4 linked regions of the Homo sapiens genome follow. The protein of the gene in region 4 purifies or fractionates together with the protein of the main gene of each other region. This does not show direct contact. Each region holds a gene or a part of one and is shown on either strand. Other genes may lie near its edges.

What was found.
Region 1: the proteins of AGA (region 4) and HBA2 purify together in Homo sapiens (affinity purification with mass spectrometry, with the first as the bait; 3 studies listed by BioGRID). This does not show direct contact.
Region 2: the proteins of AGA (region 4) and KYAT3 fractionate together in Homo sapiens (co-fractionation; one large-scale study listed by BioGRID). This does not show direct contact.
Region 3: the proteins of AGA (region 4) and FAM177A1 fractionate together in Homo sapiens (co-fractionation; one large-scale study listed by BioGRID). This does not show direct contact.

Annotation. Positions count from the first base shown.
Region 1 is NC_000016.10:171,423-174,210, forward strand, and holds HBA2 (hemoglobin subunit alpha), read left to right. Parts: upstream 1-1,453; 5' UTR 1,454-1,490; coding exon 1,491-1,585; intron 1,586-1,702; coding exon 1,703-1,907; intron 1,908-2,049; coding exon 2,050-2,178; 3' UTR 2,179-2,288; downstream 2,289-2,788. UniProt on the Homo sapiens protein: Involved in oxygen transport from the lung to the various peripheral tissues.
Region 2 is NC_000001.11:88,954,630-88,958,129, reverse strand, and holds part of KYAT3 (kynurenine--oxoglutarate transaminase 3), read left to right. Parts: intron 1-2,904; coding exon 2,905-2,981; intron 2,982-3,500. UniProt on the Homo sapiens protein: Catalyzes the irreversible transamination of the L-tryptophan metabolite L-kynurenine to form kynurenic acid (KA), an intermediate in the tryptophan catabolic pathway which is also a broad spectrum antagonist of the three ionotropic excitatory amino acid receptors among others.
Region 3 is NC_000014.9:35,052,772-35,056,271, reverse strand, and holds part of FAM177A1 (protein FAM177A1 isoform 1 precursor), read right to left. Parts: intron 2,995-3,500; coding exon 2,821-2,994; intron 1-2,820.
Region 4 is NC_000004.12:177,432,438-177,435,937, forward strand, and holds part of AGA (N(4)-(beta-N-acetylglucosaminyl)-L-asparaginase isoform 1 preproprotein), read right to left. Parts: intron 2,053-3,500; coding exon 1,945-2,052; intron 911-1,944; coding exon 777-910; intron 1-776. UniProt on the Homo sapiens protein: Cleaves the GlcNAc-Asn bond which joins oligosaccharides to the peptide of asparagine-linked glycoproteins.

The DNA.
Region 1 (2,788 bases), on a different chromosome or scaffold from region 4:
CACTGCATTAGCGAGGATGGTCTCGATCTCCTGACCTCGCATCTGCCCGCCTCAGCCTCCCAATGTGCTGGGATTACAGGCGTGAGCCACCGCGCCCGGCCTTATGTATTTATTTTTTTGAGACAGAGTCTCGCTGTGTCGTCAGGCTAGAGTGCTGTGGCACGATCTCGGCTCACTGCAACCTCCAACTCCCTGGTTCAAAGGATTCTCCAGCCTCCACCTCCCGAGTAGCTGGGATTACAGGCGTGCACCACCACACCCAGCTAATTTTTGTATTTTTAGTAGAGACGGGGTTTCTCCATGTTGGTCAGCCTGGTCTCGAACTCCCGACCTCAGCTGATCCACCCGCCTTGGCCTCCCAAAGTGCTGGGATTACAGGCGTGAGCCACCGAGCCTGGCCAAACCATCACTTTTCATGAGCAGGGATGCACCCACTGGCACTCCTGCACCTCCCACCCTCCCCCTCGCCAAGTCCACCCCTTCCTTCCTCACCCCACATCCCCTCACCTACATTCTGCAACCACAGGGGCCTTCTCTCCCCTGTCCTTTCCCTACCCAGAGCCAAGTTTGTTTATCTGTTTACAACCAGTATTTACCTAGCAAGTCTTCCATCAGATAGCATTTGGAGAGCTGGGGGTGTCACAGTGAACCACGACCTCTAGGCCAGTGGGAGAGTCAGTCACACAAACTGTGAGTCCATGACTTGGGGCTTAGCCAGCACCCACCACCCCACGCGCCACCCCACAACCCCGGGTAGAGGAGTCTGAATCTGGAGCCGCCCCCAGCCCAGCCCCGTGCTTTTTGCGTCCTGGTGTTTGTTCCTTCCCGGTGCCTGTCACTCAAGCACACTAGTGACTATCGCCAGAGGGAAAGGGAGCTGCAGGAAGCGAGGCTGGAGAGCAGGAGGGGCTCTGCGCAGAAATTCTTTTGAGTTCCTATGGGCCAGGGCGTCCGGGTGCGCGCATTCCTCTCCGCCCCAGGATTGGGCGAAGCCCTCCGGCTCGCACTCGCTCGCCCGTGTGTTCCCCGATCCCGCTGGAGTCGATGCGCGTCCAGCGCGTGCCAGGCCGGGGCGGGGGTGCGGGCTGACTTTCTCCCTCGCTAGGGACGCTCCGGCGCCCGAAAGGAAAGGGTGGCGCTGCGCTCCGGGGTGCACGAGCCGACAGCGCCCGACCCCAACGGGCCGGCCCCGCCAGCGCCGCTACCGCCCTGCCCCCGGGCGAGCGGGATGGGCGGGAGTGGAGTGGCGGGTGGAGGGTGGAGACGTCCTGGCCCCCGCCCCGCGTGCACCCCCAGGGGAGGCCGAGCCCGCCGCCCGGCCCCGCGCAGGCCCCGCCCGGGACTCCCCTGCGGTCCAGGCCGCGCCCCGGGCTCCGCGCCAGCCAATGAGCGCCGCCCGGCCGGGCGTGCCCCCGCGCCCCAAGCATAAACCCTGGCGCGCTCGCGGGCCGGCACTCTTCTGGTCCCCACAGACTCAGAGAGAACCCACCATGGTGCTGTCTCCTGCCGACAAGACCAACGTCAAGGCCGCCTGGGGTAAGGTCGGCGCGCACGCTGGCGAGTATGGTGCGGAGGCCCTGGAGAGGTGAGGCTCCCTCCCCTGCTCCGACCCGGGCTCCTCGCCCGCCCGGACCCACAGGCCACCCTCAACCGTCCTGGCCCCGGACCCAAACCCCACCCCTCACTCTGCTTCTCCCCGCAGGATGTTCCTGTCCTTCCCCACCACCAAGACCTACTTCCCGCACTTCGACCTGAGCCACGGCTCTGCCCAGGTTAAGGGCCACGGCAAGAAGGTGGCCGACGCGCTGACCAACGCCGTGGCGCACGTGGACGACATGCCCAACGCGCTGTCCGCCCTGAGCGACCTGCACGCGCACAAGCTTCGGGTGGACCCGGTCAACTTCAAGGTGAGCGGCGGGCCGGGAGCGATCTGGGTCGAGGGGCGAGATGGCGCCTTCCTCTCAGGGCAGAGGATCACGCGGGTTGCGGGAGGTGTAGCGCAGGCGGCGGCTGCGGGCCTGGGCCGCACTGACCCTCTTCTCTGCACAGCTCCTAAGCCACTGCCTGCTGGTGACCCTGGCCGCCCACCTCCCCGCCGAGTTCACCCCTGCGGTGCACGCCTCCCTGGACAAGTTCCTGGCTTCTGTGAGCACCGTGCTGACCTCCAAATACCGTTAAGCTGGAGCCTCGGTAGCCGTTCCTCCTGCCCGCTGGGCCTCCCAACGGGCCCTCCTCCCCTCCTTGCACCGGCCCTTCCTGGTCTTTGAATAAAGTCTGAGTGGGCAGCAGCCTGTGTGTGCCTGGGTTCTCTCTATCCCGGAATGTGCCAACAATGGAGGTGTTTACCTGTCTCAGACCAAGGACCTCTCTGCAGCTGCATGGGGCTGGGGAGGGAGAACTGCAGGGAGTATGGGAGGGGAAGCTGAGGTGGGCCTGCTCAAGAGAAGGTGCTGAACCATCCCCTGTCCTGAGAGGTGCCAGGCCTGCAGGCAGTGGCTCAGAAGCTGGGGAGGAGAGAGGCATCCAGGGTTCTACTCAGGGAGTCCCAGCATCGCCACCCTCCTTTGAAATCTCCCTGGTTGAACCCAGTTAACATACGCTCTCCATCAAAACAAAACGAAACAAAACAAACTAGCAAAATAGGCTGTCCCCAGTGCAAGTGCAGGTGCCAGAACATTTCTCTCATTCCCACCCCTTCCTGCCAGAGGGTAGGTGGCTGGAGTGAGGGTGCTGGCCCTACTCACACTTCCTGTGTCACGGTGACCCTCTGAGAGCAGCCCAGTCAGTG
Region 2 (3,500 bases), on a different chromosome or scaffold from region 4:
TAGATATCTGGGGACAAGTGGAATTATAGGCCTGATCGTCAGAATCAAATTATAATGGGATATATTTTTGGCAGTCATCAAAATGTTGGTGGTAGCTGGACACATGGAAGAGAATGAATTTTCTCAAGGGGAATATATAAACAGAGAAGGCAGCCAGAGATTTGCAGGGTGTGACACCTTAATACACCAAAATGTTATCATGTTTTAAATTGTATCAGAGGCCACAATTGCCCATCTTGTTGGTGACCTCTGTCTCAAGTAATTTGAACTGTTTCCCAGTGGAAAATCAGATTAACATGAACAATTACTTTCTTGTTGTAATTAACTCAGTGTAGCAATATTCATCCCAAAAAATCACTTTAGATCATCTTGAAATTTATTGTTTAGATCTACTCATTTTAAGCCCTTCAGGGTAAAGCATAACTGGTAACATTATTTACTAAAGATATGCAACAGTATTTACTAAAGATATGCAAGATGTATATTTTGAACTTAGATTTTTTTATTTGTAGCAGCCCATAAAGTTTAAATAAGACCAAAAAATGGATACACTATTTCATTATTTAGAAAGTGCAATTTGTTTGCATTAAAACTTAGGTATTCTATCGAATACAATAGTCTTTGTTACATTAAAGATGCAAAATGGCTACAAAATGGCCATTACATCAATTTGCAAAGTGCAACAGTAGTCCTTTAATATATGATGTATCCTTTACTTTAAAGGAAGTGATAATCTGCATTATACGTAGTTTAGATTTTCTCTGATCAAATAGAAAAGTGGGGCATGTGTCATAGTGTTCTTTTGGAGTATTTTGGAAGACCAGAAATGTCTCAGAAGGGATATAATTATTTATATCAAATCTTAAAGTATTCCTTCTTCAAGTGGACATTCTAACTATTTTTCTCATTTATCTTTTTGGGTTTTGTCATATTCCACAGAGAATAAAATTATAACTTTTCTGATTTATATGCTTTTCCTACTGTTTCAAATTTAGCAGGTATTTCAGGGTAGACTGAAATTACTTATACGTTGTTTTGGAAATTTCTGTAGCTGCCTTACATTTTAGTAGGCACTTTACTTGCTTATGAGCAGATTACTTCAAGAAAGCAGAAGCTTAGATTCCCAGAGATGAGCATTTATTTTCCCTTTGTGTGTACCAACACTCTAAGGACAATACAAGAGCCCCCACTTGTGCTTCTGAAAAACAAGTGGAAAAACTTGTGGGTTGCATGGAAAGAACTTCACAAGTAAATTACTTGAGGAATCCACAAAGCAGTATTGTGGGTGGCATTGTCAGAAGAGTGACAGAATGGTAATTTACCAGTTATTACCAATGTCTAGCAAAATTTACAAACTCTTGCATTTTAGACCTCTAGACCTTTGTTACCTGCATTTTCTTAGCCCAAAATATCTTCATTCCCCTTCTCTGCCTGGCTACAGCCTATGTGGTCTTCTATGTCTCAGCTTAAGAATTACTGGCTGCAGAAAGCCACCCTCAACACCCTCTTCTATTCTTGCATCACCCTCCATGCCTCCTACTACAGCATTTATCACACTGCATTACAGTTGTCATTGTATGTGGCTCATGTCCCTACTAGACATTAAATTTTTTGAAGAATTGCATCTTATTCATTTTTGGTTCCTCTAGACCTTAGTCCTTAGCACCTGGTGGTTGCTAATGAATATTTGATGTATGAATGAATCAATGTCTTTATTAAAGATGTTAAACAACTTGAAAACCATTATACAGCCAATTCACATTATTCTTGAGTTCTGTATTTGCAAATTTGCCTACTTCCTAAAATATATGTGTAATTCCAAAATCAATAAAGGGGAAATTTGAGTCACCCTACACACATTCCCAGTCGAGGTCAAACAAGGCAACATTATGCTTCTGTTTCAATTCACACTATAAGCAATTGTTCTCTGTACAGTGATTTTGCTGTTTAAAATGGCCCCCAAGCCTAGTGCTGAAGTGCTGTCTAGTATTCCTAAGTGCAAGAAGGCTGTGATGTTCCTTACGGAGAAAATATGTGTGTTTGATAAGTTTCATTCAGGCACAATGGCCATGAGGATATTAAAGAGTGATAGCTAAAAGGTACAGGGCTTCTTTTGAGATAAAAAAAGTGTTCTGAAATTGGTTATGGTGATAGTTGCACAGATCTATAGATATACTAAAAAAATCACTGAATGGCATACTTTAAATTGGTGAATTTATGGGATTTATATCCCAATAAAGTTGTTAGCAAAACACACGCCCATACACACATACACACACACATGCACACACACACACACATGTGCACACATGATTACTGGGTCCCACTCCCAGAGTTTCTGATTCAGTAGGTCTGGGATGAGGCCCAGTGATTTGCCTTTCTTACAAGTTGCCCAGTGATGCTGATATTGCTAGTGTGAGATCACATTTTAAGAGCCATTGCTCTAGGAAGCCTGGAGAAATACACTCAGAAAATAGGCAAAATAAAGGGGCCTAAACAATAATCAGGATCACAACCTAAGCCCTGCCACTGGCCTATTTTATCGAACCTGCAGTCACTGCTAACATTGAACACTGAATGCTACAGCTCCTGTGACAGCTGCCACTTAAGGCAGTCTGGAACACTGCCTGCTGGTGCCCCTGACACTCCTGCCCCAGAACTAATTTTAAAATTATTAAATCTATTTATATACTATCTTGGTGCAACATTACAGTATTGTAAACTTTTCGTCTGTGTTTTGCATTAAAGTTACATTATCTAAAAAAAAAACTAGAAATAACTATACTGGCTAAATTATAACACACTTATTTTCATTGAATTTATGTATCTTTGTTATGTTTTTAGATTATACTAAATGTGATTAATTGGAAAACAATATTTACCCTTTTTTCCTCCTCTGTTTAGCTACTTTTCCAGGTATGTGGGAGAGAACAATAACAATAGGAAGTGCTGGAAAGACTTTCAGTGTAACTGGCTGGAAGGTAAGATGAGTAAGAATTTAATTGCTTAAAAATAGGCCTGTATATTATTTATTTTTTGTTGAGTGGTTTGTGTTTTAAATGCTGGCCAGGCATGGTGGCTCATGCCTGTAATCCCAGCACTTTGGGAGGCTAAGGCAGGAGGATCACTTAAGGCCAGGAGTTCAAGACCAACCTTGGCTACATGGTGAGACCCTGTCTCTACAAATACATTTTTTAAAAATTAGCCAGGCAGGGTGGTGCATGCCTGCAGTCCCAGCAACTTGGGAGGCTGAAATGGGAGGATCACTTGCGCTCAGGAAGTTGAGGCTGCTGTGAGCTGCGCTCCAGCCACTTGGAGACAGAACAAGACCATCTTTAAAAAAATAATGAAATAAATAAGTAAACAAATAAATGAATCATTGCATACATATTCAGTTTATATAGATTTTTATACCTGGTGATCTTTGCTTATCTCTTGACTTATTTGGCTTTCATGTTGAGTTTTATCCTTTTTGAGACCTAATTATTTCTTTAAACATA
Region 3 (3,500 bases), on a different chromosome or scaffold from region 4:
CTTGAGGTCAGGAGTTTAAGACCAGCCTGGCCAACATAGTGAAAGCATGTCTCTACTAAAAATACAAAAATTAGCTGGGTGTGGTGGTGCGTTTCTGTAGTCCCAGCTACTCAGGAGGCTGAGGCAGGAAAGTTGCTTAAACCAGGGAGGCAGAGGTTGCAGTAAGCTAAGATCACGCCACTGCACTCCAGTCTGGGTGACAGAGCCAGACTCCCTCTCAAAAAATAAAAATAAATAAATAACCTAATCAAAATAAGCAAAGGAAGATTACAAATGGCCAATATGCACCTGAAAGGATGCTCAACATCACTGACCATCAAGGGAATGTAAATCAAAACGACAATGAAATAACATATTCACTAGGGTTGCTAAAATCAAGAAGATACATAGCAAAGGCACAAGAGAACAAAAAAATAAAAAGACACATAGTAACAAGTGATGCTGAATATGTGGAGAAATCATTATCCTTACACACTGCTGGTAGGAATTTAAAATAGTGCAGCCACTTTGGAAAACAGTCAGGCAGTTCCCCAGACATCTAAACATAGACTTAGGGCTGTGTGTGGTGGCTCATGCCTGTAATCCCAGCACTTTGGGAGGCTGAGGCAGGAGCTCGAGACCAGCTTAACCAACATGGTGAAACTGCATCTCTACTAAAAAAAATACAAAAATTAGCCGGGCGTGGAGGTGTATGCCTGCAATCCCAGCTACTTGGGAGGCTGAGGCACGAGAATCGCTTAAACCCAGGAGGCAGAGGCTTCAGTGAGCCAAGATTGTGCCACTGAACTCCAGCCTGAGTGACAGACCCTGTCTCAAAAAAAAAAAAAAAACAGTTATTGCATGACCCAGCAATTCTAGTCCTAGTTATGTACCCCTAATATTCTACCTGCATTTGGAACTACCTTCAAAGTATATGGTACAATCTTTGAATATTTTCTGTGTAGAATATCCGATTTTTTTTTTTTTTTTAGATGGAGTTTCACCCTTGTTGACCAGGCTGGAGTACAATGGCACGATCTCGGCTCACTGCAACCTCTGCTTCCCGGGTTGAAGCAATTCTCCTGCCTCAGCCTCCTGAGTAGCTGGGATTACAGGCGCCTGCCATCACGCCTGCCTAATTTTTTGTATTTTTAGTAGAGACAGAGTTTCACCATGTTGGCCAGGCTGGTCTCGAACTCCTGACCTCAGGTGATCCACCCACCTCGGCCTCCCAAAGTGCTGCGATTATAGGCGTGAACCATTGCTCCTGGCCTGCTTATCATTTTTTATTTTATTTTTTATTTTTTTATTTTTTGAGACCAAGTTTCGCTCTTATTGCCCAGGCTGGAGTGCAATGGCACGATCTTGGCCCACCGCAACCTTCGCCTCCTGGGTTCAAGCGATTCTCCTGCCTCAGCCTCCTGGGTAGCTGGGATTACAGGCATGCACCACCATGCCTGGCTAATTTTTTTGTATTTTTAGTAGAGATGGGGTTTCTCCATGTTGGTCAGGCTGGTCTTGAACTCCCGACCTCAGGTGATCTGCCTGCCTCGACCTCCCAAAGCGCTGGGATTACAGGTGTCAGCCACCACACCTGGCATGATTTTCTAATAGCCAAATATTTAAAGCCAAATCTGATGAAAAGGAGTAACATTTTTAAAATCAAATATAAACAATTCTCTATTCTGTAACTATGCTTAATTTTCTTTATAGCACTTTTCATAGCCTGATAATTATAGTATATATTTATTTATTGCCTGTCTTCTCACTAGTATATGAGAGCAGAAATTTATATCACCCACTGCTATATCACCGGCACCTAAAATAGTACCTGTTAGAAAGTCAGTAAATATGTGATTACCTGGACTCTCAAAATAATTACTTGAAGGGCATTTCTTTATAAATAAATAAAAATTTCTTTATAAATATATAGCTAGTCTCATAATTGTACAGTCACATCTTGTATAATTTAGAAATTCTCCAAGTTAGTTGATAAGGCACACAAAGTTCAGAAATGTATATTCTTATCTTCCAATCAAAACTTGAAGCAAACTTTTGTTTTGTTTTGTTTTGTTTTTGAGATGGAGTCTCACTCTGTTGCCCAGGCTGTAGTGCAGTGGCGCGATCTCGGCTCACTGCAAGCTCTGCCTCCCGGGTTCATGCCATTCTCCTGTTGAGGCAGTATTTTAAAAAGCTGACAACTCCCTAAGTTTTGGGTGGAAACTATCATGGCAGTACAGTCCTTAAATCAAAGGAACTGGGATTCAAGCACTCAATTTAGTAAGATAAATCTTTTTTTTGAGACAGAGTCTCGCTCTGTCCCCGAGGCTGGAGTGCAATGGCATAACCTTGGTTCACCGCAACCTCCACCTCCCAGATTCAAGCAATTCTCCTGCCTCAGCCTCCCAAGTAGCTGGGATTACAGGTGTCCACCAATACGTCCAGCTAATTTTTTGTATTTTTAGTAGAGATGGCGTTTTGCCATGTTGGCCAGGCTGTTCTCAAACTCCTGACCTCAGGTGATCCACCCACCTCAGCTTCCCAAAGTGCTGGGATTACAGGTGTGAGCCACCGCGCCTGGCTGATCAATCTTAAATCTATCCATACTAACACAGTACTCTGACACTGAAAAACAAGCTGTTTCAGGCTACTGAAATGCTGGAAATATTTCCGTCCATATCATGTAAAAATATTATTTTCTATCAAAATCACCATACATAATTTTATAATAAGAATATAGTTGATTTAAACCTCAAAAGGTCCCTTCCACTCAATGTTTAGGGAAAAAAAATAAATCAAAACAAAGCCCACTGAGGAAAGAATCATCAATATCAAACCTACCGGATCAACAGTAGGCAAAACATCTTTCTTCTCCAGGCCATCAACTTCGTCTTCATCTGTGCTATATTCTTCCATTGTTTCACCACTAACAAAGTGGATGACTCTCCTTGGGACTTTCTTCTTTTTTCCTATGACTCCCAGTTCTACATTTTCAAAGCCTCTTTCGTTACTCATCTATATCAACGATATTTTAAGAAAATGAGTTTCAAGTGAGATTAATTTTCTTTCATTACACGTGAAAAACTTTTGGTAGGTTTATTGTAGTAAAGAAATAAATCTTTAAGCAGTTTTGGTTTGTTCTGAGACATGGTCTCACTCTATTGCTCAGGCTGGAGTACAGTGTCAAGACTATGGCAGACCAAATAAAACCCACCATTTGTAAACCAAATCTGGAAAGCAGATTATCAGCATTGTATCTCTGAACTTCCAGATGTCTTGGCCAGTAATACATATGTAACAAAAGAGATTTCTGATAGTAAAAAGATTTCACAAGTTCTTAAACTTTAGTAGTCTATGGAATTTTTTTTTCCCCCAGACAGGGTCTGGCTGTTGCCTAGGCTGGAGAGCAGTAGTGCAATCACGGCTCACTGCAATCTCAAATTCCTGGCCTCAAGTGATCCTTCTGTGTCCACCTCCTGAGTACCTGGGACTATAGGAGCATGCCACCACACTTGGCTAAT
Region 4 (3,500 bases):
AGAACTGCCTTATTTGATACATAAAGCTTTTCCCCTTCATAATTTTTATTGACTTTTGTGTCTTAGTGCTTAAAAAAGAATAAAGCATTCCTCAAACAAGTTTTTCAAATATAGAACTGTGGGAAGTAAAAGATCAAAGAACAATAATAAGCAGTCCAACCTAATAAGTCATATTGATCAGTAAGCTGTGTATCTTCCCCATCTGAAAATTCACTAATGAGAATCAGCAGTGGCTGATCTTAAAATGCTTTGAAACTGTGATAGGCTCATATGGAAAGTAAATGAAGTGAAAGACAAGCCTCAAACAGTGCAAAAATAATTCTGCTAACCTCTTCGGTTTACTAATTAGTAATACATTTTGTTCTTTGGAGCCCCGAGAAGATCTAAATGGCTGAGGCATTTAAATAATGAATAGAAAAGAAATAGGGAAGATAATTTATCCTTGTCTATTTTTAATTAGTATAAACATTTGACTAGATTAGCCTATGTCAACGTGTACTGGAGCTGAAGCTAAACTTCATTTAAGACACATGTGAAAGATAAGAACTACTAGTCAGAGACTGGGTCATAACTACCAGCAGTCAATCCAAAGAGGCTTTTAGGTATATTTTTAACGCTGTGGGTCTTGAGATCATCAATGAACATTTACTCAATGCCCACTTAAGGAGTCTCTTTTTCTATTGAATATAGTGTATTGTACAAAACAATATTTAAAAAGTGTATGTTTTAGAAATATTTGGAAGTTCACACAAATACAAAATCCAAACACAACTTACCGTAACTTCCAGTCACATTGGCACATATAACAGCCCCAAAGAATTCTGGAAAATGCTTCTGGATTCTTGAAATCACTTTTTGGCAAGCTATGGTTGGATCTTCTCCTCTTCTCATGTATTCTACAGCTTGGTAGCTGATTGAAACAGAGGTGAAACCTTAGTGTCTCAGAATAAATACTAACTCCAAATTGGGTTACTTGAAGTTAGAAATTAAAACCACCAAAATTGCCACATGTGATAGAATACACATAAATGAACAAGAGTCGGTTACTTCTGTTAAAGCATCCACAAAGCAAGTCCACTTTGATACAGAGTCTATCTTTTCAACTAATCCACCCATGAATTTCAGATGTGGAATATTATTTTTGGCTTTGGCTGAATAACTGTCAGTAATGATACCGACAGTCAAATGTAATGGCCAGAACTCAAAAAGAATACAGATTTTCAATGAGAAAAACAGCTACAATCAAAGGGGAAAGTAGTGTGCATGGGCACAACATCTAGCTAGGGTGGTTAAAGGTACACGATGACTGCACTTCCTACTTTTACCATCAATTATCACAGCTCCTTTACTCAGTAGCTTTACATCAATTACTAAATAGATCATAAGTATTCTCATCTGGGAAGCAGGGTGAGAAATACTACTTTATTTCACAGGACTATGATTACTTAACTTGAATGATTATCATTATCAAAATGATAGGCAACAAGTTTGTATGCAGTTTCTAAGAAGCTCTTGTGCACAGAAATTCAGGTTACACAATACAAAAATTATGTTTTCTTTCTTTTATTTTCTTGAGACACAGTCTCATTCTTGTTGCCCACACTGGAGTGCAGTGGCGCGATCTTGGTTCACTGCAACCTCTGTCTCCCAGGTTCAAGCGATTCTCCTACCACAGCCTCCCGAGTAGCTGGGACTATAGACTTGTGCCACCATGCCCAGCTAAATTTTTTGTATTTTTAGTAGAAACGGTCAGGAGTTCGAGACCATGTTGGCCAGGCTGGTCTCAAACTCCTGACCTCAGGTGATCCACCTGCCTCAGTCTCCCAAAATGCTAGGATTACAGTCGTGAGCCACTGCACCCAGCCTCAAAAATTATTTTCTATCTTAAAAGAAAAAAATATCTTCTCCAAAGGTCTCTAAAATTCACAAACTAAGAAGTCATACCTTGGCAGGAAGCGCATCAATATATCACCATTCCCAGTGGCTGCGGCTGCCCCTGCAGTATCGTCAGCATAGGCTCCAGCTCCAGGTATTGGTGAGTCTCCTACACGGCTTTGAGAGGGTATTAACAATTTACGGCAGGAAATCGAGTGTAAAACACATTAAGTCATAAGCTGTTCCAAATAAGGGATAGTTCCACTTAGCCTCTGATACCGTTTTAAGTAAATTCTTCATCGGAACAAAGACAGAACAGGTCTTCATTAGTTTTTTAACTAAGGTTTTCACAAACCTGCATTAATTATGTAAGAATTTGTTATCAGACGTGGAGTGTACAACAGCTGAACTCACAGAAACAGAGACTAAAATGGTGGTTACTGGAGGCTGGGGGGAGGGGGACCTGGCGAGATGCGGGTCAAAGGACACACAATTCCAGTTAGGCAGGAGGGTAAGTTCCAGAGGCCTACTGCGGATCATGCTGACTAAGGTTAATAACAATAGAGTGCACATTTGAAAACTGCGAAGTAGATTTTTTTTTTTTGAGACAGGAGTCTTGCTCTGTCACCCAGCTGGAGTGCAATGGCATTGATCTTGGCTCACTGCAACCTCCGCCTCCTGGGTTCAAGCGATTCTCCCTGCCTCAGCCTCCTGAGTAGCTGGGACTACAGACACGAACCACCAAGCTCAGCTAATTTTTTGTATTTTTTTTTTTTTCAGTAGAGACTGGGTTTCACCATGTTGGCCAGGCTGGTCTCGAACTCCTGACCTCAGGTGATCTGCCTGCCTTGGCCTCCCAAAGAGCTGGGATTACAGGCGTGAGCCACTGCACCCAGCTGAAAACTGCTAAGTAGATTTTAAGTGTTCTCACCATAATAAAATAGGTCTGTGAGATAATAAGTTAAATAGCTTGATTTAGCCATTCTACAACATATACATATATCAAAGTATCATGTTGTACACCACAAATACACATAATTTTCATTGTCATTAAAATTAATTTTTTAAAAGAACTTGTTATCAGCCAGGTATATACCAGGATGGCACAGATTTACAGTGACTATTCTATTATTACCATCCTTTATCATCTAATTTCCAGATGATTGCAACATGTTCAAAATTGGTTTCCCTCATCTATAATCTATTTCCGCTTCCTATGTAATGTGCCAAACTTTTACCAGATTTTTTTCTAGTAAGAAATGTTTAATGCTTTTCTATTTCAAAATTAAATCCAGAATGCCTTCAACTGACTTAAGACTCCTTAAATCTGGCCCCAGTCTTCCCTTGTAGTCTTATCTTCCAATACCACTTCCCCTACCCCAAAATACACACACACCCCCACACCCCTTCTTCCCTAGCCAGTGGGAGCCCTGAATACACACACACACACCCACACCAGTGGGAGCCCTGAGCGTGCACGCACACGCACACATACACACACACACCCCTTCTTTCCAAGCCAGTAGTTCTGCGTGCACGCACACACACACACACACACACACCCCTTCTTTCCAAGCCAGTGGGAGTTCTGAACACATGCACACATACACACACCCCAGTGGGAG